Linked DNA regions of Homo sapiens. The protein of the gene in region 1 purifies or fractionates together with the protein of each later gene. This does not show direct contact. Each region holds a gene or a part of one and is shown on either strand. Other genes may lie near its edges.

Region 1 (3,408 bases):
GTGCATTGATATGGAAAGATCTCTACCATACATTGCTAAGTGAAGAAAAAAGTAGTTGCTGAATGGTTTGCTACCTGTTGGGAAAGAAAGGGCAGAATATTTGTTTGTATTTGCATAAAGTAATTTCGGAAGAATAGGCAAGAAACTTAAAAGTATCTGTGATAAGGGAGAAGGGTGAGATTGGGAAGGCAGGAAATTAAGAAAATGAGAGTAGGAGTGTTTGGGTATTTGGTATAGGAATATATTAACTAAAGTTATTTTTTTAAAAGACAATTTTCATTTTTGGAACACTGTTATTGTTATTAGATTTTGAACATTAATGGTGGTAAACAAACTATGTTTATACTTTTACAATTAGAATCCAGATATTAAGAATAAAGATGTTCTTAGCACACTAATTATTAGCATTGATTGACAATAATTTGGCTTCAGAATCAATGCTGTCAGTGCTTCTCTTGGAAGAAATGCAATGATTGTCTCAAATAGAAATTTTGTCTATAACTGGAGTTACTGGTACTAAAGATAGTCAGGGCCTGGTGTAGTAGGTCAGAATCAGCCAGCTCCAGTGTTCTTCCTCTTGGTGTCCTAAACCTTTAGGATACCTCACCTGATTGATTTCTTATGGTTTGAGAACAACTGCCCTGGACCCTTCACTGCTGATTCTAAAGATTCCCTAGATCCATGGTGAAATTAGTTCCCAGAATGGATACAAAGTGGGAGCTCTGAGGACAGAAGGATGAATATGGGAGTTCTGGGGAGGGTGAGGAGTTTATCAAGTGATCAAGGTGGAAGTCTTCAGAGTTTCAGAGCACACCTGTGCAAAGGCACAGAGTCCTCAAATCACATGGGGAGTGGTGACTACTCTGGTGCACCTGGAATGATGGCATTAATTGAACACCTAGTCTGGTCCCTATCATTACTGTTATGTGGAATATCAAAGAAATGAAAGAAGCACTTCTTATCTTCCTATAATTTCCTTCAGAAGCATGCTCCATTATACAATTAAAGAAAAAGAAGACCTATGCAATGATAAGGTAAATAAACATCAAGTGTTTTAGTGACTTTTACCATTTATCAGGCAGGAGTAGTCTGTGACTTGCAGGGCAGGGCAAAAACAGTAGAGGATCCGATGTCCAAGAGACTTGGGTTCAGACTCGCCCTGCCATTTCCTAGTGGTGTGATGTTGGGCAAATCACTTGATCTCTTTTATTTTTTATTTTTTGAGACAGTATCTTGCTCTGTCGCCCAGGATAGAGTGCAGTGGTGCAGTCATAGCTCACTGCAGCCTTAAATTCCCTGGCTCAAGCAATCCTCCCACCTCAGCCTCCTGAGTAGCTGGAACTACAGGCCCATAGCACTGCACCCAGCTCTCACTTGACCTCTTTGAGTCCTTATCTACTCATATGAAGATGGGAATAAATATGTCATCCTTGGAAAATTTGTGAAGACCAGAGATACATGCAAATTCCCTGGTAACAATCAACAAATGATGTATTTTCTTATTTTACATTTCTTTGGTTTCCAAAGCTTCATTTTAAACATATACTCAATTATCCTATTTTATCCATTCTAAGATGTGTATCTCCCCCTATATTTTAACATCTCTAAAATCTGGATGTGTCTCATAATAGATGCTATCTCCTACTGTCATCTAGGTTGCAGGGATAATCAAGTCGTGTGAGCACCTGGTACGAATGAGAAAGCACTAGCAACAATGAACAAGAAACAATTACCAATAAAATCTGGGTAATTTCATTTGAAATTACCACTACAAATCTTGATTTGGGTTTGTACTCTAACACTACCACAACAGGACAACAATTATCTTCCTCCCCCTCCCACTTTGGAACCCTTGATCATTGAAATAAGTTCATAATCCTCCAATGCAAGTATATTCTCGTGTCACATAATTATTTCTTGTTTGCCTGTGACACAGGGAAGACTTTTGTGGTAGTGGGGAGCCATACGTTGATCTTTAAGTGATGCAAGAATTCTGCTTCAGGAGAGATAGCTTTAAGAATCTTCCAGTCCAGGACTGCAGGAAATTCGCTGCCAACAAAGGTTTTAATATGACTCCCTCTCCTCTGCAACTATGGAGTTAATGACTACCTTCTTCCTGTGGCAGTGGAGGAGGGGGGGCTCCTGCTACTCCCAGCAATGGGGCATTTTGAGATTCAGGTACTTTGAAAGTAGAAAGGGGAGGAGGAGAACCAACATTTCTCAAGCAGCTACAATGAGCCAAACATTTTATGTTATTTCATTTATTCCTCCTCATAGGAAATGTGCTATTCTTAGTTTTGTTTTACAGATGAGACAGCAAAGTCTTAGGCTAAGGAATTTCCCAAGGTTATAAGTTGTAAAAAACACATGGGTTTAGATGAAGTATACCAGATATTCCAAGGGTTCTTTTCCTTTATAACTATAATATAATAATATTTATAAAATAGTATTTGAAACTTCTATAAGTAATCATTTAGTTAATCAATTAGTTAATTATAATTAGTCATCTTAATCAATAGGGTTATTTCTCTTCCTCTAATTTATCATTCTTTTCACATACAGTCCCACCAGGATATTTGCGATATACTCCAGAGTCACTCTGGAGGGACCTGATCTCAGAGCACAGAGGACTAGAGGAGTTAATAAATAAGCAAATGCAACCTTTCTTTCGGGGAATTTTGATCTTCTCTAGAAGTTGGGCTGTGGACCTGAACTTGCAGGAGAAGCCAGGAGTCATCTGTGATGCTCTGCTGATAGCACAGAACAGCACCCCCATTCTCTACACCATTCTCAGGGAGCAAGATGCAGAGGGCCAGGACTACTGCACTCGCACCGCCTTTACTTTGAAGCAGAAGCTAGTGAACATGGGGGGCTACACCGGGAAGGTGTGTGTCAGGGCCAAGGTCCTCTGCCTGAGTCCTGAGAGCAGCGCAGAGGCCTTGGAGGCTGCAGTGTCTCCGATGGATTACCCTGCGTCCTATAGCCTTGCAGGCACCCAGCACATGGAAGCCCTGCTGCAGTCCCTCGTGATTGTCTTACTCGGCTTCAGGTCTCTCTTGAGTGACCAGCTCGGCTGTGAGGTTTTAAATCTGCTCACAGCCCAGCAGTATGAGATATTCTCCAGAAGCCTCCGCAAGAACAGAGAGTTGTTTGTCCACGGCTTACCTGGCTCAGGGAAGACCATCATGGCCATGAAGATCATGGAGAAGATCAGGAATGTGTTTCACTGTGAGGCACACAGAATTCTCTACGTTTGTGAAAACCAGCCTCTGAGGAACTTTATCAGGTAAGCAGTTGGATCTTACGTCTCTAAGTATTATTTAATCTGGGTTTAATTTTTTCTGCTAAGTCACCGTCTTTCTTGAGAATTGAGTGGTAAAATGATCTGTGGTAATGTACTGTGCTCGG
Region 2 (4,203 bases), on another chromosome or scaffold:
TCAAGCGATTCTTCTGCCTCAGGCTCCTGAGTAGCTGGGACTACAGGCATGCGCCACCACGCCTGGCTAATTTCTGTATTTTTAGTAGAGACGGGGTTTCACCATATTGGCCAGGCTGGTCTCGAACTCCTGACCTTGAGATCTGCCCGCTTTGGCCTCCCAAAGTGGTGAGATTACAGGCGTGAGCCACCGTGCCAGGCCAATAATTTCTTTATGGCCAGTTTTTTCACAGAAAGGTGGAGAGAGAGTAATATTTTTAGGTTTTATGGCTGACTGTGGAGAAAAGGGATTCCTGTTTCTATGCTCCGTCATGGGCAAGAGGGATTCTTGAGTTTCTATGGCTAGCCTCAGAGAATCAGAGATCAGAGAGGGAGCAGAAGGTCAGAGAGAAACTTGCTTCTGAGGCTGCCTCTGGGGCCTTCATTTTGGGGTTTCGTTTTCAGAGCCTCAACAGGAGCAAGCCATGCACATAGGTGGAGGAGATAGGCCCTCATAGAGGGCACATAATGAGTGGTCAATAAAAGTTTGCTGAGTGAAGGCCGGGCGCGGTGGCTCACGCCTGTAATCCCAGCACTTTGGGAGGCCGAGGCGGGCGGATCACGAGGTCAGGAAATCGAGACCATCCTGGCTAACACGGTGAAACCCCGTCTCTACTAAAAATACAAAAAATTAGCCGGGCGTGGTGGAGGGCGCCTGCAGTCCCAGGTACTCGGGAGGCTGAGGCAGGAGAAGGGCGTGAACCCGGGAGGCGGAGCTTGCAGTGAACCGTTATAGCGCCCAGCCTCCAGCCTGGGCAACAGAGCGAGACTCCGTCTCAAACAACAACAACAACAACAACAACAACAAAAACAGCTTTCTGAGTGAAGTTGTATGTGGACATGAATGGCCCAGGCAAACAGTGAACAGAGGAATGGGACAGTGTTCTTAGTTAGGACTCTGACCCTAACTTCCGGGAAAGTAAACCAACATTCAGGACGTACCGGCCATCGGACCGCAACATTCAGGACGTACCGGCCATCAGCGGGTGCCTGTTTTGCAGGGCTGCTAACCCGGGTCCCCGACACGTTTCTCTGCCCACGGTAGCCAGCCCCGCTGTCCTTCGGCCTGGACGCGGTCCTGTGCTGCCACCTGCCTCCGAGGGGCAGAGAAAGTGGGAGGGCCGGGCCAGAATCCCTCCCGCCAAAACTCCTGCCCGGTGCGGAGAGGCGCCCGGAGCCCAGGGCGCTGTGCGGAGCGGGTGTAACTCCCCAGGCCTGCCCCGCCGCCTGCCTCCACCGTCCCGCGGACGCCTTTCCTCCCTCCCGCGGCGTGGGAGCCTTCGCCGCGCTCCGGAACTCTGCTGCTCCAGCGAAGTTCCCGGCCGGCCGCTGGAGCTGCGGGAAGCGGAAGTGCTCGTTGGGGGTGCACAAGGCGCGTTCGAGCAGCGGCGACCGACGCGGCGAAGGAGCGCGCCATGGAGCATGTGACAGAGGGCTCCTGGGAGTCGCTGCCTGTGCCGCTGCACCCGCAGGTGCTGGGCGCGCTGCGGGAGCTGGGCTTCCCGTACATGACGCCGGTGCAGGTATCGGTTCCCTGGCGTGGGGGAGTGAGGCTGGGAGAGGGGCAGGCACCCGCTGCATCGGACCCACAGGAGGTGATCGGACAGATCTGAGCCCTGGGGCGCTCATCCCTCCAGCTGGGGCTCTTGCCTTGTCTCCAGCTGCCCAGACTGGCGGAATGCGGAGCTGCCCGGCCAGCGAGCCGGCAGAGGGGCCGCGACCCACCCCGCCCTCGGGTGCTGTGGTCTCAAGCCTGGTTCTCATCCTGGCCCTGCTCGCTGTAGCTGTGAGACCTCGGGCAAATGGCTTAACCTCTCCGTGCTTCATTTTCCTTCTCTGTGAAATGACGAAAAAATAACACCCTCCTTATGGGGTTGCTGTGGGGACTAAATAAACCAGTCGGCACACTATGGGAGCTCAGTAAGGGTTACCGTTGTTATGCATCTCTTCAAGAATATTTCTTGAGGACCTGCTATGTGTCAGGAACTCTTCTAGGCTCTGGGGAGTTTGCAGTATTGGCATCTGCTCATAGCCTTACTTTCTAGTGCAAGAGCTAGAGAAAGGATAATTTCAGCTGCTGGTAAGTGTTATGAAAGAACTAAGACGGTTGTGATAGTGTCGCGCGAGGACTGCAGAGGAGGTGAGATAGGGTGTTAAGGAAGGCCTCTCTGAGGAGGTGCATTGAGCTGAGACCTCAGTGATTGAGAAGGAGCTGGCTCTGAGGTGACTAGGGGGAGATTATTCCACTGGAGAGAAATACCAGTGCACATAAATGCCCTGCGGCAGGCTGCAAATAGTTTGAGCAGCAGAAAGGAGGCCTTTGTGGCTGAACATCAAGAGTAGTGTAAGAGATGGATTGTGCAGGGTCTTGTAGGCGCTTGGATTTCATTCTAAATGTAGTGGGAAGCCATCTTATCTGGGAGGATGTTTAGGAAGGGAAGGGCTGTGATTTCTCTGTAGAGAGTGGCCTTTCCAGGCATAAGAGATGAAGCAGGCAGGTCGCTTAGGAGGCCATTGTCAGGTAAGAGATGATGGTGACTTGGAGTAGGGTGGAACCAGTGGATACTGAGAAGTCACATTTGGGATAGCTTTAAGGTTGCTAAGGGACTGGAAGTGGAGGTTAGGAAAGAAAAGACTACAGGACCTGAGGTTTTTATTCTTTTTTTTTTTTTTTTTGAGATGGAGTCTCGCTCTGTTGCCCAGGCTGGAGTGCAGTGGCGCGATCTCGGCTCACTGCAACCTCCGCCTCCTGGGTTCAAGCAATTCTCTGCCTGAACCTCCCAAGTAGCTGAGATCACAGGTGCCTGCCACCATGCCCGGCTAATTTTTTGTATTTTTAGTAGATACGGGGTTTCACCATCTCGGCCAGGTTGGTCTTGAACTCCTGACCTCCTGATCCACCCGCCTTGGCCTCCCAAAGTGCTGGGATTACAGGCTGAGCTACCGCACCCGGCTGATTTTTATTAGTAGCTGAGTGAATGGTGTTACCATTTCCCAAGAATGACTGGCGTGCGTATCAGGTTTCAGAGGGAAAGTCAAGAGTTCTTTTTTTTGTTTTTTGTTTGTTTGTTTGTTTTTAACTTTTTTGAGACGGAATCTTTCTCTGTTGCCCAGGTTGGAGTGCAATGACACGATCTCGGCTCACTGCAACTTCTGCCTCCCGGGTTCAAGCTATTCTCCCATCTCAGCCTTCCAAGTAGCTGGGGTTACAGGCATACACCACCACGCCTGGCTAATTTTTGTGTTTTTAGTAGAGACGGGATTTCGCCATGTTGGCCAGACTGGTCTTGAACTCCTGACCTCAGGTACGCCCGCCTTGGCCTCCCAAAGTGCTGGGATTACAGGAGTGAGCCACTGCGCCTGACCACAAGAGTCCTGTTTTTAAACACTGAGCTGGGTACAGTGGCACCCGCCTGTAGTACCATTTGTTTGGAAGGCTGAGGTGGGAGGATCCCTTGAGCCCAGGAGTTCAAGACCAGCCTGAGCAACATAGTGAGACCCGCATCTTCGAAATTAAAATAAATAATGGCCGGGCACGGTGGCTCACGCCTGTAATCCTAGCACTTTTGGAGACCAAGGTGGGAGGATCACTTGAGATCAGGAGTTCAAGACCAGCCTGGGCAACATAGGGAGGCCCTGTCATCACAAAAATTTTTTTTAAATAAATGAAGTCTTGAGTTTGAGATGCCCATAAGATTCCCGGGAATGTGGAGAATGTATTTCCAGCAGGCAGGGCTGGAGATGAAAACTGGGAGTGCTATGTGCCCTGCCTAGGGAATGTAGTGCGAGCAAGACCCAATCTCTGGCCTCAGAGCTCATTGTCTAGACCTGTCATCCACTACACAGTCATCAGACATGGCTATCAAGTGCTTGAAATACACTTTGTCCAAATCAAAGTGTACTCTGAGTATCAAATAACACACTAGATTTTGAAGACCTAGTATGAAAAAAGAATGGAAAATGCTGATTTTTAAATATTGACTAAATGTGAAGGGACAATATTTTTGATATATTGGGTTAAATAAAATATTAAAATTTATTTCACCCATTTCTTTTTACTTTTCTTACTATGGCTATTAGAAAATTTAAAATTGTTTATGTGGTTCACATTTTATTTCTATTGGACAGCAATGGCCTGAAGCAGGGTCCTCACTGTTGGCACTAT
Region 3 (2,242 bases), on another chromosome or scaffold:
TGTCAAATTTGCTTTCAAGAAAGGTAGTGTATTAGTCAGCTTGGGCTGCCATAACAGAATGCCACAGACTGAGTGGCTTAAGCAACAGGAATTTATTTTCTCACCATTATGGAGACTGAAAGTTCAAGATCAAGGTGCCAGCAGGGCTGGTTTCTGGTGTGGCTTCTCCTCCTGGCTTGCAGATGGCCACCTTCTGCACGTGGCATTCTCATATGGCCCATTGTTGGAGTGCGTGCAGAGAAAGGGAGAGCTTTGATGTCTCTTCCACTTCTTACAAGGACACCAGTCCTATTGGATTAGGGCTCCATCCATAGGACCTCATTTAACCTTAATTACCTCCTTAAAGTCCCCATCTTCAAATACAGTCACAAGTCCCCATCTTCAAATACAGTCACATTGAAGGTTAGGGCTTCAGATGAATTTTGCGGAGACATACCTCAGTCCATAGCAGATAGTAGCATTGACATTTCATCATCAGTGAATGAAAGTTCCCGTTTCAGCATCTTATTGTCAATGTCAGATATGTATACCATATATGTGCACATGCACACAAGCATGTACATATTGCTAATTTGATGAAGATGGCATTGTTTTACTTTGCATTTCTTTGGTCATTAGTTGCAGTGAAACTTGATTATAATGTTTGGACTTTTTTTTTTTTGGTGAGTTTTCTATTCCTGTACTTTGACCATTTGTGTGTGTGTGTGTTGGGGTTGTTCTTAATTGCCAGTAAACCTACATTTTCACTTGAGTGTTTAGCTATTCTGGCAGGCATTTTTGCTTATACAGAAAAGGAATCATATTTTAAAATATTATTTATCCTTTGATATTAAACCATTATTTACCTTTAAAATATAGCAAAGTATACAGGGTTAATAATATATGATATTCCGTATTAATGAATCATGTTTAATGTTCACCATACATTCGTAAAAAGTATTTATAGTTTGCATGCATTGATTTGCTGACAGTGAAATATAGGTAGTGGCAAGGTTAATGTAGAAATCTTTTCAGATATTATTTGCTCTGAATTAACAAATACAGCAGTGTTTCCTGTGATGTGGTCCCCAGAACTCTGATCCCACAAGATGTCCGGTGAGAAGAAAGTCTGTTGGTTAAATATTTTTGACAACTGCTGCATCCTGTACGCCCCACCTAGTGGTTCACAGTGCACATAGGGAACTGAAAGGCTCTGAGAAGCCATGTAATAAGTAAATCTGTTTAACTTTTGTAAACTGGGTACTTCCAAAACTTATTTTGACCATAGAACATCCCCTTATTTTTTTTTGTTTATGTGATTTATGTTAACTTTTTATTTTGAAATAAGAAAATTCACAAAAAGTTGTAAAGAAAATGTACAGGGAGGTCTCATGCACCCTTCACCCAGTTTTCCCCAATAGTAACATTTTGCAAAACTATAGTAAAATATCACAACCAGGAAATTGACATTCGTGTAATCTATAGAGCTTGTTCAGATTTCATCAGTTATACATGCGCTCGTGTGTGTGTGTGTGTGTGTGTGTGCAGTTCAATGCAGTTTTGTCATGTGTAGAGTTGTGTAACCTCCACCACCATAAGACTCCATTGTGCTATCTCTTTACAGTCACACCTACCCTCTCTCCTCTCCCTAGCTCCCGGCAACCATTGATCTGTTCTCTCTTTCTATAATTTTGTCATTTAAGGATGTTATATAAATGGAATAATATGGTATGTAACCTTTCGAAATTAGCTTTTTTTTTTTACTTAGCATAATTCCCTTGAGGTTCATTCAGATTGTTAACTGTATTAATAGTTCTTTCCTTTTTATTGCTGAGTAATATTATATGATATGGATGTATCATGGTTTGTTTAACCAGTCATCCATAAATGACATTTACCCCCACTCCTAATTCTGGTGGAATCTATTAATACCCTGTGTGAATATTGTCCTGAAAAATAGCAGTTTTGGAAATTCTATACCACAGAAATCATACAGTTAAATAGTTGTCAGCGTTTTAAAGATAATGATTGGGTTGCAGAAATTAAAAATCTTTATTACTTCATTTAGGAATTCCAGAGACGCTGTAACACTCTGATTTCATTGATTGAGAAAGAAAATATGGAAATTGAGGAAAGAGAGAGAGCAGAAAAGAAGAAACGGGCAACTAAAACTCCAATGGTAAAATTTTCAGCATTTTCCTAACTTTTAGGTAGATCCCATTTTTTTACATAATTAAAATGCCTATATTATGTTTAATGCCAT
Region 4 (2,802 bases), on another chromosome or scaffold:
GCCACACTCACCCAGGTAGTCAGGAACATGGCCCAGGTGGGGCTTCACCACTGCGGGGTGCAAAGGTAGGTCATGCCGCAGCAGCTGGAGGTCCCTAGGGTTGTCTTCAAAGTATGTCTGCCGGGGGAAGAGGGAGAGCCACAGAGTGAGCATCTTTCTTCTGTGACTTCACAGACCTAGCTTTTCAAAGGATAACACACTCATGTGTTTCAAAAGGCATGAGGCAGCTGCTTCTGTGCATTTCTCAGAACCTCCCGGGAGTGGATGTTTCCATTTTCCCTTCTCCATGACACACATGGCAGTACCCTGTACCCCTTTTTGCTGGGCATCATCTTACAGACTGTTCCATATGGACACGCAACCAACCTCATTCCTTCCCATGTAACCTTCGGCTCTGAATGCACCTGAGTTTACCTAGCAAGCCCCCTATGGTGGCCCCAGGCTGTTTCCATCTTTTGGTTCCATGATAATGCCATGGATGGATGAATGCAGGCACATGCTTGACTGTGCACATTCACAAGCGTGACCAGGATTAAGTTCCAGAAGTGGAATTTCGGATGAAAGGACACATGAGCTCGTAATTCTGCTGGACAGTGTCCACCATAAGGTTGTGCCAATTTACCACCAAGCAGAACAGACTGGCTTCCTTCCATGATTCTGGGTCCATTTCCTCCCCTTCCGTGCCAAAGGCCAGAAAACTGCCCAGTTCTCTGCTTCTCACCACTCGGAGCTCAGCCAGTCTCCAAAAAGGGCAGCCGTCTAAGATCTATCCCCTTCTCACCTCCCATCCACTCACCTTAAGCTTCTCAGAATGCAGAAGCTCTTCCTTGATCTCCTTCAATCTTGCCTCCCGAATGGCCTGCTTAGTCACTGAGCGCATGGCATCCTGGGGGTGGACACTGAAGGTCAAGACAGTGAGGCTGCCCCAAATCCTCCCTTCACACCTGGATGCTCAGCAAGACGGTGCAATCCCTGGGCCACAGCCCCTCCCCTCTCATTCCCCTCCCCACCACAGCAGCTCACCCTGCAGCGATAGCGGAAGCCCTCGATCTCCTCCATCCGGAACTGGTAGGGGAGCAGAATGGGGCCCCTGTTCTCTGTGGAGAAGAAAGCAGCGAGGGTCCCACAGGCTGAGGCCTTAGGATAGGGTCTTCATTGGAGGCCTCCTGCACCTCCCCCTTGGGGGAAAGCAGCAGGGGACCCACCGCCTTCCTGGGATGCCGAACATGCAGGTTAGCTGCACCTGGGCCTCTTACAGTGATGACCCATCTGTCCCCGTGTGTGGATGGGGGTGGCCTGTGTGGCCCCAAGCCCAAGAACCCGTCACCCACTCTCTTCTCCTCTCCCAAGGAGTACCCCATGGTATTCCTTGGGAGTCAAGGTACCCCCATGACGACGGCCACAGAGAGCAGTCCAGGACCACCCAGCACCCTGGGGTCAGGTGCTGTCCTGAGCTGTCACAGCAGCCTGTCAGGTCACTCAACGCTCATGAGGCAGACAGTAAACACAACTTTGGACAAATTACCTCAATTTGTTTATCTCTCAAGGGGGACAGTGCCTGCCACTCAGGGCAGAACAAGGATGGATGGTGGAAGTGGCCTGTCACACTATGTTGTGACCTCTGTCATCATTATCATGGAGTTTTAAAGCATTGTGGAAGAAGCCTGACCCTGGCCCAGGACCACAAGAGCCAGGCTCTTACCTCCACTGAGAAGCTCCTCAATCTTGCCTAAGTGGAACTGCTCCGTGGGAAGCACAAAGGTTAAGACTATGCCTGGGTTGTTAGCGCGTGCTGTCCTGCAAGGGAAGACAGTGCAGCTTGCATCTCCAACCCGCAGGCTCTGTCCAGCACACCCCAAGTCCCTCAGTGTGCCTACCATGCAGATGCCTGGGCCGTCACACTACTACCTGCCAGCTCGATGGATGTAGGCCTCAGGGGTTGGGGGAAGATCAAAGTTGAGCACAGCAGACACATGGTGGAAGTCTATGCCCCGGGCCACACCTGCTTCCGGATCAGAGGCCCTGCAGAGATAACTCAATGTCAGCCGGACCCTTCCTCTCCTCTGGGCACGTATTCACACGCTGAATCAGCAAAACTTCCTCTAAATGCCTGTAGATCATAAGACCCTGACATACAGAGGACTCTCCAACAATGGAACCGTTCCAGGAGTCAGGGTTTCCTGGGGCAGCCTGGAGCTTTGACATGTACCCAAATCTCGGCCTGACCTCTGTTCTGGGACAACAGCAGAACTCATTGCCCTACATGGTGATCTGAAAACCAACTCTGAGCTAGTCAAGCCTTCAGCTGGACAGAGACTGGAGAGTTGGGGGGTTCCTTTTCCCTTCAGAAATATGCTCCCTGCAAGTCACAGCCATACCACCAATGCAGGATGGGCCATCTCCCCTGCAGGGCTCTGCATGCCAACAACCCCGGCAGTTTTGCCCTTCGTGGTGCATGTGCAGTGTGCACCATCCACTCCCTTCTCTATATCCAGGCAGCTGAGCAAGAACCTGTGGGGCTCTCTGGGCTACACTACCAGCCAGGCCTGGAAGGTTTGGCTCCCTGCTCTGTGCACTCTGGTTTTAGTCTTCCAAAAAGCTAAAAACACAGGCATTTCTGGGGAGGGATGGAAAAAGAGGCATGGACTCACTTGTCCCCTTTGGGCCCTCGGCCCCGACGCTTGCCCTTGACTGGGGCCCCCAGGACTTCAGCATCAGTTGCTATGACACAGTCGTAGAAGCCTTGGTTGAACTGTGAGATGATGTGGCACCTGCAGCCAAGAGCGGACAGAGAATCAGCTC
Region 5 (3,500 bases), about 32 Mb from region 1:
TCCAAGCAGCCACAAAGAGACAACAGAAGGCCGGGCGCGGTGGCTCACACCTGTAATCCCAGCACTTTGGGAGGCCAAGGCGGGTGGATCACGAGGTCAGAAGTTCAAGACCAGCCTGAACAACATGGTGAAACCCCGTCTCTACTAAAAATACAAAAATTAGCAGGGCATGGTAGTGCGCACCTGTAATCCCAGATACTCAGGAGGCTGAGGCAGGAAAATCACTTGAACCAGGGAGGCGGAGGCTGCAGTGAGTCGAGATCGTGTCACTGTACTCCAGCCTGGGCAACAGAGCGAGACTCCCTCACAAAAAAAAAAAAAAGAGAGAGACAACAGAAGCCAGAACCCACAAATGGTCAAGCCTCAAGCAGTGTCCTGCTTCAACCCAGCACATGCCATCACAAGAACTTGAGAACCACTCAGAGGAGCAGTGATACAAAGGGGCTCACAGCAGATGCCCAATAAATACTTGCTGAACTGAATCCTGGAATAATCCATCTGTTCCCCTTCAAACACTCTTCCCAAGATCATTTACCATTTTGACCACACACTCTTTTTTTTTTTTTTTTTTTTTTTTGAGACGGAGTCTCCCTCTTTTGCCCAGGCTGTACGCAGTGGTGCTATCTCTATCTCGGCTCACTGCAAGCTCCACCTCCCGGGTTCACACCATTCTCCTGCCTCAGACTCCCGAGTAGCTGGGACTACAGGCACCTGCCACCACGCCCGGCTAATTTTTTGTATTTTTAGAAGAGACGGGGTTTCATCGTGTTAGCCAGGATGGTCTCGATCTCCTGACCTCCTGATCCGCCCGCCTTGGCCTCCCAAAGTGCTGGGATTACAGGCGTGAGCCACTGCACCCAGCCTCGACCACACACTCTTGTGAACAATTTTTACTGACCATATTATACCAGCCTTACCATTCAAAGCCTACAATAGTTAATTGCATAATATAGCAACTGATATCAACAAACAGTTCACCATAAAGAGGCTCAAATAGTTAAATTCAACATTATATAACAAAGAAATGAAAGTGCCATTTTACACTATTAAATTCACAAAAACTTCTGAAGAAAAATGGTTTTCTCTACTACTTATGGTAAAACAGGTATATCCATATATCTGTTAGGAGCACAAACTGGTATAACACCCTTGAAAACAGTAGGACAATATATGTGAGGAGCCATAAAAACACTGATACCCCTTAACATAATAACACACTCCAAAATTTATCCTTAAGATATCATTAGAAAAAATGCAACAGTATCTACAATGATGTAGATTAAAGTGTTAACTGAAAACCACCCAGACAGCAGTATAAATACTTCACATAAAAAGACTTAGGTAAATTGTAGCATGACTTGATGAAATTATTTTTGCAGCCTTTCAATATATAAAGTTAAATTATAAAATCTATAAGATGTAAATGTTTCATGATATAGTAAGTTTTTAAAAATCAAACTATAATGTATCATAATTTAAAATGAATTTTAAAATGTATATTTTGAAATGAAATGCCAAAAAGAAAATCAATTGTCTTAGGATAATAACCCAACATTTAACAATTTATTTATTATCAATTTATTCAACATTAAATAATAAAGTTCTACCCTACCAAGGAAATGAAGGGGTTCCAGGACACAAGCTTGATAAAGTCTCAAAAGGACCACCCCTCCCTTCTACTGCTCACTTTGGCCTTGACTGAGTGTTTTCATACTCTCCTTGGTCATGATGACCTATACTAACCCAAACCCCAGTTTTTCAAGGACCAGCCAACTGCCTCAATTGGTCCTCTGATCATCCCTATGAACCCGTGGGAGACAAATCATGCAAAACAAGCGAACACTCAAGAAACAAAGAACCTGGCCGGGCGTAGTGGTTCACGCCTGTAATCCCAGCACTTTGGGAGGCCAAGGCGGGTGGATCACCTGAGGTCAGGAATTCGAGACCAGTCTGACCAACATGGCAAAGTCCCAAGCTACTAGGGAGGCTGAGGCAAGAGAATCGCTTGAACCCAGGAGGCAGAGGTTGCAGTGAGCCGAGATCCCACCAGTGTACTCCAGCCTGGGCGACAGAGTGAGACTCTGTCTCGAAAAAAAACAATTTTTTTGATTTATTTATTAGTTTAACATTTATTACTTTAACAATTTACTTATTTATTACTTTAACCAATCAGCAAGTAGTCAGCCCAAGTTTCACTGTAAACCCTAAAAATATACAATATTGCCACATTAAAGTCTCTGGGATTCTCAAGGCTAACTTGCTGACTTAGCAGTGGACTGTATCAGTTAAAAGGCAGTGTGGACTCAGACAATCAAAGAACCAGGGGCCAGGAGACCTGAGAACAATTAAAAGCAAAATGTAGATAGATTTTTTTTTTAACTACAAAAAACACAAAGCTAAAAAGTCCAGCTTAAACCAGATGAGTAAAAAAATAGCTGGAGATATTCTTTTAAGTCTTAGCCAGAGTGCAAAAGGGAGGATGGAAAGTCATTTTATTAAGAGCTGAAGCTAGCCCGGCACAGTGGCTCACACCTGTAATCCCAGCTCTTTGGGAGGCCAAGGCGGGTGGATCACTTGAGGTCAGGAGTTCGAGACCAGCCTGACCAACATGGTGAACCCCCATCTCCAGTAAAAATACAAAATTAGTCAGGCGTGGTAGCGCACACCTATAGTCCCAGCTACTTGGGAGGCTGAGGCAGGAGAATCACTTGAACCCAAGAGGCAGAGGTTACAGTGAGCTGAGATCGCCCCATTGCACTCCAGCCTGGGCAACAAAAGCAAGACTCCATCTCAAAAAAAAAAAAAAAAAGACCTGAAGCTTTTTGCGGATGAAGATATCTCACAAAAGACAAGTACTGAAAATTCATGGCCAGGCATGGTGGCTCACACCTGTAATTCCAGCACTTTGGGAGGCCAAGGCAGGTGGATCATGAGGTCAGGAGTTTGAGACCAGCCTGGCCAACATAATGAAACCCCGTCTTTACTAAAAATACAAAAAAATTAGCCAGGCATGGTGGCAGGCACCTATAATTCCAGCTACTTGGGAGGCTAAGGTAAGGAGAATCGCTTGAACCTGGGAGGCAGAGGTTGCAGTGAGCTGAGATTGCACCACTGCACTCCAGCCTGGGCGACACTGCCAAGACTCTGTCTCTCAAAAAAAAAAAAAAAAAAAAAGGAAGAAAATTAATTTAAAAATAATTTTAGGTCGGGTGCGGTGGCTCACGCCTGTAATCCTGACACTTTGGGAGGCCGAAGCGAGTGGATCACCTGAGGTCAGGGGTTTGAGGCCAGCCTGGCCAACATGGTAAAGCCCTGGCTCTACTAAAAATACAAAAAGTAGCTGGGCATGGTGGCGGGCGCCTGTAATCCCAGCTACTCAGGAGGCTGAGGCAGGAGAATTGCTTGAACCCAGGAGGCGGAGGTTGCAGTGAGCCGAGATCGTGCCATTCATTGCACTCCAGCCTAGGTGACAAAAGCGAAACTCCGTCTCAAAAAAATAA
Region 6 (3,500 bases), on another chromosome or scaffold:
TCCAGCTGTGACATGGGCACCTGTGGTCTATTTCTCCTGTGCACATCCAACTGCCCCATCCCTATTCCACGTTGGTGGAGTTGGGTGGAGGCTACCTAGGAGAGCAGTCTCTGGTCACATCATTCATCCAGTAAGTGTTTATTGAGCACCATCTGTATATACCAGGCTGTGCGTTAGGTGCTGGGGATAGGGGAAAAACAGAGTTTCAGTCTCCTGGAATTTATAATTTGACATGAACTGTATTAAGTCACTGTCATGACCCATGCCCATAACTTGACCACAAGTGATTGAGAACACTTGATTAACCCTGGATGGGCTACTGACCTATCTATCACACAGCCCTGGGCCAGTTCATCTCTAGACAGCTCAGCAAATGGGGAAAATAACAGAACCCACTCCCAAGCTCAGGTGATCCTCCCACCTCAGCCTCCTGAGTAGCTGGGGCTACAGGTGCACACTACCATGCCCAGCTAATTTTTCTATTTTTTTTTTGTAGAGACAGGGTTTTGCCATGTTGCCCAGGCTGGTCTTGAACTCCTGGGTTCAAGCAATCTGCTCACTTCGGCCTCCCAAAGTGCTGGGATTACAGGCGTGAGCCACTGTGCCCAGGCAACTTTAATAATATTTAATGCACTAATTGGTGTGTGTACAGTGATTGGTTCATTTTAATAACTGAAAACCCAGCCTGCCCCCCGCTCCCACCCCGGAGGACCCAGTGTCACATAAGAGTCCCCCACCCCGCTGTCGCCAGCAGAGTTCCCTCAGGACAACAGTAACAGGAAGTGAGGAAGGCTGCCACTCTCGGGGCTGTAGAAACCCTGCTCTGCCTCACCTCCTGTCTTATCCACAGTGTGTGGTCCAGCAATGCTCTTCCTTCGGAGCCTCCGGTCCCTCTTTCTCCTATGAATCAAATGAAAGACAGAAAGGGCAGGGGAATTAGGAATGCAGGCTGAGCAGGCATACCTACTTTCTGGACAGTTAGTCAGTCTTGTGCTCCTCCCATGCCCCATCCAGTCTCAGTCTCAACAGCAGGGAGGGCCTTTGTCACGTGAATATCTGCTGTCACTCTTAGGACTCAGTAGCAGGGCTTCCAAGGCCTTTGGTGACCTGGCCCCTGCCACTTCACCTTCCCCAGCCTGGCATGCTCCGAGTCCCCAGCACGGCCCAGCCTTCCCAGGATGTCCAGGCTCTTGCTTGCTCTTCTACCTGCTCCCCTGGCTAACTCTTTTTTTAAAATTCATTTTTACTTATTTTGTTTTAGAGATGGGGGTCTCACTATATTGCCCAGGCTAGTCTTGAACTGTTGGGTTCAAGTGATACTCCCACCTCCGCCTCCCAAAGTGCTGGGATAACAGGCATGAGCCACCGTGCCTGGCACCTGGCTGACTCTTAATCATCCATCCTTCTGGTTACAATTTATTGTCACTTCCCTAAACACCCCCTTTCTTGGCCAAAGTCAGGGTTAGCTGGCCTTTGTGCTCCTGCAGCCTCTGTCCCTCCCCTACCATAGCACTGTCTCATTGTATTGAGATGGGCTTATCCCCTGGTCAGCTCTGAGGGGAGGGCCAGGCCTACCCTGCAGCCAGGCCCCCAGCCTGGCACAGAGCCCACAGTCTGGTTGCGTCTCATGTGGATTCTAATTTGAATGTAAAGGAGAACCATACAAAAGCATCTGTGGTGGTTCACGCCTGTAATCCCAACAGTTTGGGAGGCCAAGGTGGGAGGATCTCTTGAGACGAGGAGTTTGAGACCAGTCTCTATCATAAAATTTAAAACATTAGCCAGGCCTGGTGGTGTGTGCCTATGGTCCCAGCTACTTGGGATGTTTAGGCAGGAAGATCGCTTGAGCCCTGGAGGTCGAGGCTACAGTGAGCCATGTTTACACTATTGCACTCCGGCCTGAGTGACAGAGCCAGTCTGTCACCTGTCTCTAAAAAAATAAAAAATAAAAAAAAAATATGAGCCAAATTTGGCATAATGTAGATTTCCATCATTAAAACAAAACTCACAGAAAACAGCAAGATTTCAAAGCCAGCATGCAGTGATTAAGATATCCCTTTGGAGTCGGGTCCTTGCTTTGCCTCCGCAGGCTGCGTGACCTGGTGCTTAACGCAGTTACCACATGGTGGCGCCACGTCAGCTGAGAGCAGAAATAGAAAGGTCCCCGTTCTTCACTAGTGCCTGGCGAGGGGTCTGTTTACATGCATCAGAACACCTGTCCTGGGTTTTGAGGACTCTTGTATTGCTATTTTATAACTCACTATAATACTTTAAAAATATTTAATTTAAAAATCATTTAATAATTAATTTAAATATAATAATAAATAATTTAAAAATCATTTTTAAATAATAATTTTAAAACCCTCCAACATGTCATCCACCCATTCATTAGGAGGTAACAGCACCAGGGCTGAAAAATGTGCATTAAAGTCGATAACTTTGGTGTGCAACGTCAGCGTGATAGGCAACCAAGTAGCCACCTCTCTGAGGCTGAGCCGTCAATTTTGGGGTGACCCCTCTTTGGGATTTGAGAGATCGGGCTGAGAAGACAGAAAGCAATGACAATATGCTGCAGTGGTCGTGGATTTTCTGTGCGGAGGGAACATCTCCTCCTACTGTATATTTATTCTTGTGGGGAATGAGTCCTGCCCTACGGGGAGTTTTGCATTAATGAGGCTCTCTAAGAACCGAGGCTCTCCAAGAACCAAGCCATGCATACAGTGCAGAACACCCTAGGCAAGGCCTTCACATCAGATTTGTGGGCTGAGGCTGACACGTGAACGGAGCTGCCTTAGCGCCCCGCCTGACCCCCTCTTTCCTTTCCCCCACACCCCCTGCTCTGATCTGCTGTCTCTTCTCAGCCTCTCTGCTCACCCTGTCTCTTCTGGCCATTCTTAACGGCATCCCCCACTTAGGCATCCCTCCGCCCCCACAGGCTGCCAGGCAGACCCAGCACCATCACATTCACGCCTCAGGCCTCCTTGCTGTGCTGTTTCACGTCATTCCCAGACACCTGGGGCAGATTCCGGAGTCTCTACCAAGAAAACAACCAGAAGCAATGAACCACAAAATCTGGAGAAAAACATGGCTGTCACAGATCAAAGAGGCCCCCCTTTGGAGGCTGGGGGCCTCCGTGAGAAGCAGTGGGATAGTTGAGAGGCAAAAAACATGGGGCAGAATTCCGCGCCCCTCATATCAGCTGGGAGAATGCCAATGACCAGTGGTTTCTGAGCTTTAGCTGTGTGGGGTAAGAGGTCAATAGATTTTGGTGTTACTATTATGGGGTTGCCAGAGCCACCTCTGTTCCTGCCAGATGGGCCCCCAGCTCCTCTGGGTGAACTGTGACTTCCCTCAGTCACATAGATCCAGCCATGCAAACCTGCCTGCGTTGCGGCCACAGCACTTGCTGTCTCTCTCACCAGGACCGTTCTCCCTGATGGCATCAGGGCCTGGATCACAGTCACATTCTCCAGGAGTGTTTTTGCAGGGGACCCTCTGGA
Region 7 (3,500 bases), on another chromosome or scaffold:
TTTGCCAATATGCTTCGCAAAGACCTGATCTTTCAGGATTCTGGAACAAAACCCAACCACTACTCACCAGGGTCAGAAGAGAAGCTAGATCTTGAGACACGACGTGCTGGCTCCTGTAAGTTGGGAAAATAAGAACAGTTATTTGCAGGTCTTTCTAAATGATGACAGTCACAACAGTGAAAATATTATTTATTGTTTTCTGGCTGGGCATGATGGCTCATGCCTGTAATCCCAGCACTTTGGGAGGCCAAGGTGGGCGGATCACTTGAGGTCAGGAGTTTGAGAACAGCCTGGCCAACATGATGTAACCTCATCTCTACTGCAAATACAAACATTAGCTGGATGTGGTGGCAGGTGCCTGTAGTCCCAGCTACTCAGGTGGCCGAGGCAGGAGAATTGCTGGAACCCGGGAGGCAGAGGTTGCAGTGAGCAGAGATTGCACCACTGCACTCTAGCCTGGGCAATAAAGCGAGACTCTGTCTCAAAAAATAAAAATAAAAACAATAAAAAATTGTTTTCTTTACCAAACCACTCGTATATGACTTTTAAAGACTGTTTGAGAAATGAGCTCAAGTCAGTTGGGAGCTAGTGGTCAGGATAAAAGTACTTATTAGCTGACTCATTAAAAAATAGTGAGTGATTAATAGGAAACAAATTCGAGGCTTAAAATTACTAAAATCAAACCTCGGTGTGTTTTTATAACTTCCTTTAAAGATATTTCCCAACATCCTATTGCGGAAGAACCAAAGTCAATATTAAACATCACCTATACTGAAGATCTGTAACCCCCCACGAGCTCAGAACTACTGACTGCGTCATCAGTTTTCTCATAAATGGGCCATAGGACCTGTCGATGAACTGAGGCTCCACTTGGCATGTGCGCCCTCTTGGCTGGTGGATACTTAGGGTGGATCTGAGAGCCTAGATTCACCCTAGGTAAATTCATGGTACAGGCACACATGGTATATTCACAGATTCTGCAACCTCACAGCCTGGGAGCAGGCGCAGCGCCCCCACCTGGCTCCCCAGAGACAGCGCCCTAACTTTCCTTCATATGGAATTATTTCCGGAAGGGTGGAAGAACTAAAGAATAACATATATATATAACTTTTATAAAAGTCTGATGCCCCAAAGGAAGAAAAGCTTATCATCTGGATTATTAAGAAAATATCTAAAAAATATTAACAAAGGCAAAGAATCTAACTTCCTTAATCAATTTTAGGTTTCTTGATACGTAACACCTTGCTTCTAAAACTATCTATGTGAGGGATGGTTTTTTATTTCCAATCTGAAGTGGAACAAGAATCTTATGACTAAACAATATAAATGAACCACTAATAAAATTATGAATATGTAAAGTATATAATCTCACTTTTGTTGTACGATTACATTCAATAGCCACAAAATTGCTGTCGAATTGCTGTCATATTTACTACATACTCCATTTCAGTACTCACTATATCACAGACCAGTAACAGAACAAACAGTTCCTAGACTGCTGAGTGGCACATATCTAACCCACAGTTCAACTGGCTTTTTGGTTTATTTACTCCCATAGACTAGCAAGTTGCCTGGTGGCTACAGTGTGGGATGCCTCAGAAACTGGCTTCCAGCACGGGAACTGATGACCATCAGATTCAACATTAAGGCTGCTCCTCTAGGGAAGAAGGCAGTACTTAAATGGCAGAAATGGACTGGGCATGGTGGCTCAAGCCTGTAATCCCAGCACTTTGGGAGGCCCAGGTGGGTGGATCACGAGGTTAGGAGTTCAAGACCAGCCTGGTCAATATGGTGAAACCCTGTCTCTACTAAAAATACAAAAATTAGCCAGGCATGGTGGTGTGCACCTGTAGTCCCAGCTACTCGGGAGGCTGAGGCAGGAGAATTGCTTGAACCCAGGAGGCGGAGGTTGCAGTGAGCCAAGATCGCACCACTGCACTCCAGCCTGGGTGACGGAGTGAGACTCCGTCTCAGAAAAAAAAAAAAAAAAAAAGGCAGAAATGTTGAAATTCAAGAGTACCTACTGCTAATTTCAGGTGCACCTAAGATAACTCTCCTAAGCCAAGATATTCCAAGGAGCTCATCTGAAACTAGCTTTAGGAGCACTCTAAAATGTAGGAAAAATATGAATTCTCAGGGCTCATCCTAAGCCTAAATCCCACTAAATTTCCAAGCACATGCCGACAACTGTGTTTTAATAAGCTGTACAACTAAAATACCTCTTCCACACTGATATACTCAAACTATCTAAATTGCGAAGCACGTGTCGACAATTATGTTTTCATAAGCTGTACAATTGGAATACCTGTTCCACACTGATACACTCAAACTATAGGATTCTCTCACAAGACAAAGCACAGGATCCCTTTTCCTGTTTCATGGGTCGTCTATCTATCAAAATAGAGAAGCATCTTTGGCACTCATGATTTTCATAATGTGATTATTTCAGACACATAAAGACGGATGAGTACAATGACTGGGCGACAAAATGAGCCACCAGATAATGCAATTCCCAAATGTTAGCTCTACGTGTTGGGGTTATCCTAATCATGGGTTTGCAAAAAGCTCGCAACATGCTCTAATAGACTTTTTGGCTAAAAGTGTAAGACCAACTTAGTGCTCTGATTTTGAACAATAAAGAGGAAATATCATTTTAGATTATTTTAATACGTCTAAGTTCAACTCGTTTTTATACTTTAGTTACATTTTCCTACTATAACAGTAACCACCCTCTTTGTAACTGATTTCAAGTAAGAAATCATTAAAGCATACATAAATGATTTCATATCATCGAAACGAATCAGCCCAAACTTGGATATTTTCTATCACCTGTTCACGTATTTTTCTTGGAAATTCAGTTGACTTCCTTCCATTCTGAAGACTTTCATTTTCATACCTGCAGTTTATAGAACGACAAAGATCCTGATTAAAAATTTATACCCTGGGGCGGAAGTCTCCATATCCACTTAATGTCCAAGGATCAACGAACAAACTTTGGGTTTAGTTCAAGACATCACCTTATACAAAGAAATAAATTTAGAGTTAGAAAAGTGCTTTTACACTAAAAACTAGGATTAGTTGCATCGAGTTTGTTTTGAAATACCACTGTCAGAGGCTGGGGACCCAGATTAACTTCTGATCACTGACGAACAGCCCAGGTATGATTTGACAATATTACCAAGCACCTTCTATGACATAAGCTAATGCACATGAGAGCAAAGTCAAGTTTCTTCTAGTTTAAGTCCATGGAAATCATCGGATGGCTTGGAAGGCCAGCCAGGAAGCCTGTAGGTAACTGAATCTTTCTCACGTTGTGAAGTTACATACTTCAGGGTAAATAAAAAGCTACACTTACACTACAGGGTAACTACAAACCTATATTTTAGAACACTATGATCACTTCAGTTTCCCACACATTCAGTCTGTATCTGAACAAGACAGGTACATCTTAAGAAGATCACCTTTAGCAAGATACATAATTGTCCTGGCAAACCTCAGTG

What was found.
Region 2: the proteins of SLFN11 (region 1) and DDX55 purify together in Homo sapiens (affinity purification with mass spectrometry, with the first as the bait; one study listed by BioGRID). This does not show direct contact.
Region 3: the proteins of SLFN11 (region 1) and SMARCA1 purify together in Homo sapiens (affinity purification with mass spectrometry, with the first as the bait; one study listed by BioGRID). This does not show direct contact.
Region 4: the proteins of SLFN11 (region 1) and DDX56 purify together in Homo sapiens (affinity purification with mass spectrometry, with the first as the bait; one study listed by BioGRID). This does not show direct contact.
Region 5: the proteins of SLFN11 (region 1) and HELZ purify together in Homo sapiens (affinity purification with mass spectrometry, with the first as the bait; one study listed by BioGRID). This does not show direct contact.
Region 6: the proteins of SLFN11 (region 1) and CASP9 purify together in Homo sapiens (affinity purification with mass spectrometry, with the first as the bait; one study listed by BioGRID). This does not show direct contact.
Region 7: the proteins of SLFN11 (region 1) and MKI67 purify together in Homo sapiens (affinity purification with mass spectrometry, with the first as the bait; one study listed by BioGRID). This does not show direct contact.

What each region holds. Positions count from the first base shown.
Region 1 is NC_000017.11:35,353,214-35,356,621, reverse strand, and holds part of SLFN11 (schlafen family member 11), read left to right. Parts: intron 1-2,562; coding exon 2,563-3,286; intron 3,287-3,408. UniProt on the Homo sapiens protein: Inhibitor of DNA replication that promotes cell death in response to DNA damage. Acts as a guardian of the genome by killing cells with defective replication.
Region 2 is NC_000012.12:123,600,696-123,604,898, forward strand, and holds the start of DDX55 (ATP-dependent RNA helicase DDX55), read left to right. Parts: upstream 1-1,403; 5' UTR 1,404-1,453; coding exon 1,454-1,561; intron 1,562-3,152; exon of another isoform or gene 3,153-4,203. UniProt on the Homo sapiens protein: Probable ATP-binding RNA helicase. Has ATPase activity and is involved in the maturation of precursor large subunit rRNAs.
Region 3 is NC_000023.11:129,448,249-129,450,490, reverse strand, and holds part of SMARCA1 (SWI/SNF-related matrix-associated actin-dependent regulator of chromatin subfamily A member 1), read left to right. Parts: intron 1-2,047; coding exon 2,048-2,158; coding exon of another isoform or gene 2,159-2,182; exon of another isoform or gene 2,183-2,189; intron 2,190-2,242.
Region 4 is NC_000007.14:44,568,107-44,570,908, forward strand, and holds part of DDX56 (probable ATP-dependent RNA helicase DDX56), read right to left. Parts: intron 2,772-2,802; coding exon 2,652-2,771; intron 2,023-2,651; coding exon 1,909-2,022; intron 1,798-1,908; coding exon 1,703-1,797; intron 1,098-1,702; coding exon 1,024-1,097; intron 887-1,023; coding exon 797-886; intron 118-796; coding exon 12-117; intron 1-11. UniProt on the Homo sapiens protein: Nucleolar RNA helicase that plays a role in various biological processes including innate immunity, ribosome biogenesis or nucleolus organization. Plays an essential role in maintaining nucleolar integrity in planarian stem cells.
Region 5 is NC_000017.11:67,235,197-67,238,696, forward strand, and holds part of HELZ (probable helicase with zinc finger domain), read right to left. Parts: intron 1-3,500. UniProt on the Homo sapiens protein: May act as a helicase that plays a role in RNA metabolism in multiple tissues and organs within the developing embryo.
Region 6 is NC_000001.11:15,500,216-15,503,715, reverse strand, and holds part of CASP9 (caspase-9 isoform alpha precursor), read left to right. Parts: intron 1-3,500. UniProt on the Homo sapiens protein: Involved in the activation cascade of caspases responsible for apoptosis execution. Binding of caspase-9 to Apaf-1 leads to activation of the protease which then cleaves and activates effector caspases caspase-3 (CASP3) or caspase-7 (CASP7).
Region 7 is NC_000010.11:128,116,424-128,119,923, forward strand, and holds part of MKI67 (proliferation marker protein Ki-67), read right to left. Parts: intron 2,897-3,500; coding exon 2,830-2,896; intron 114-2,829; coding exon 68-113; intron 1-67. UniProt on the Homo sapiens protein: Protein that associates with the surface of mitotic chromosomes and acts both as a chromosome repellent during early mitosis and chromosome attractant during late mitosis.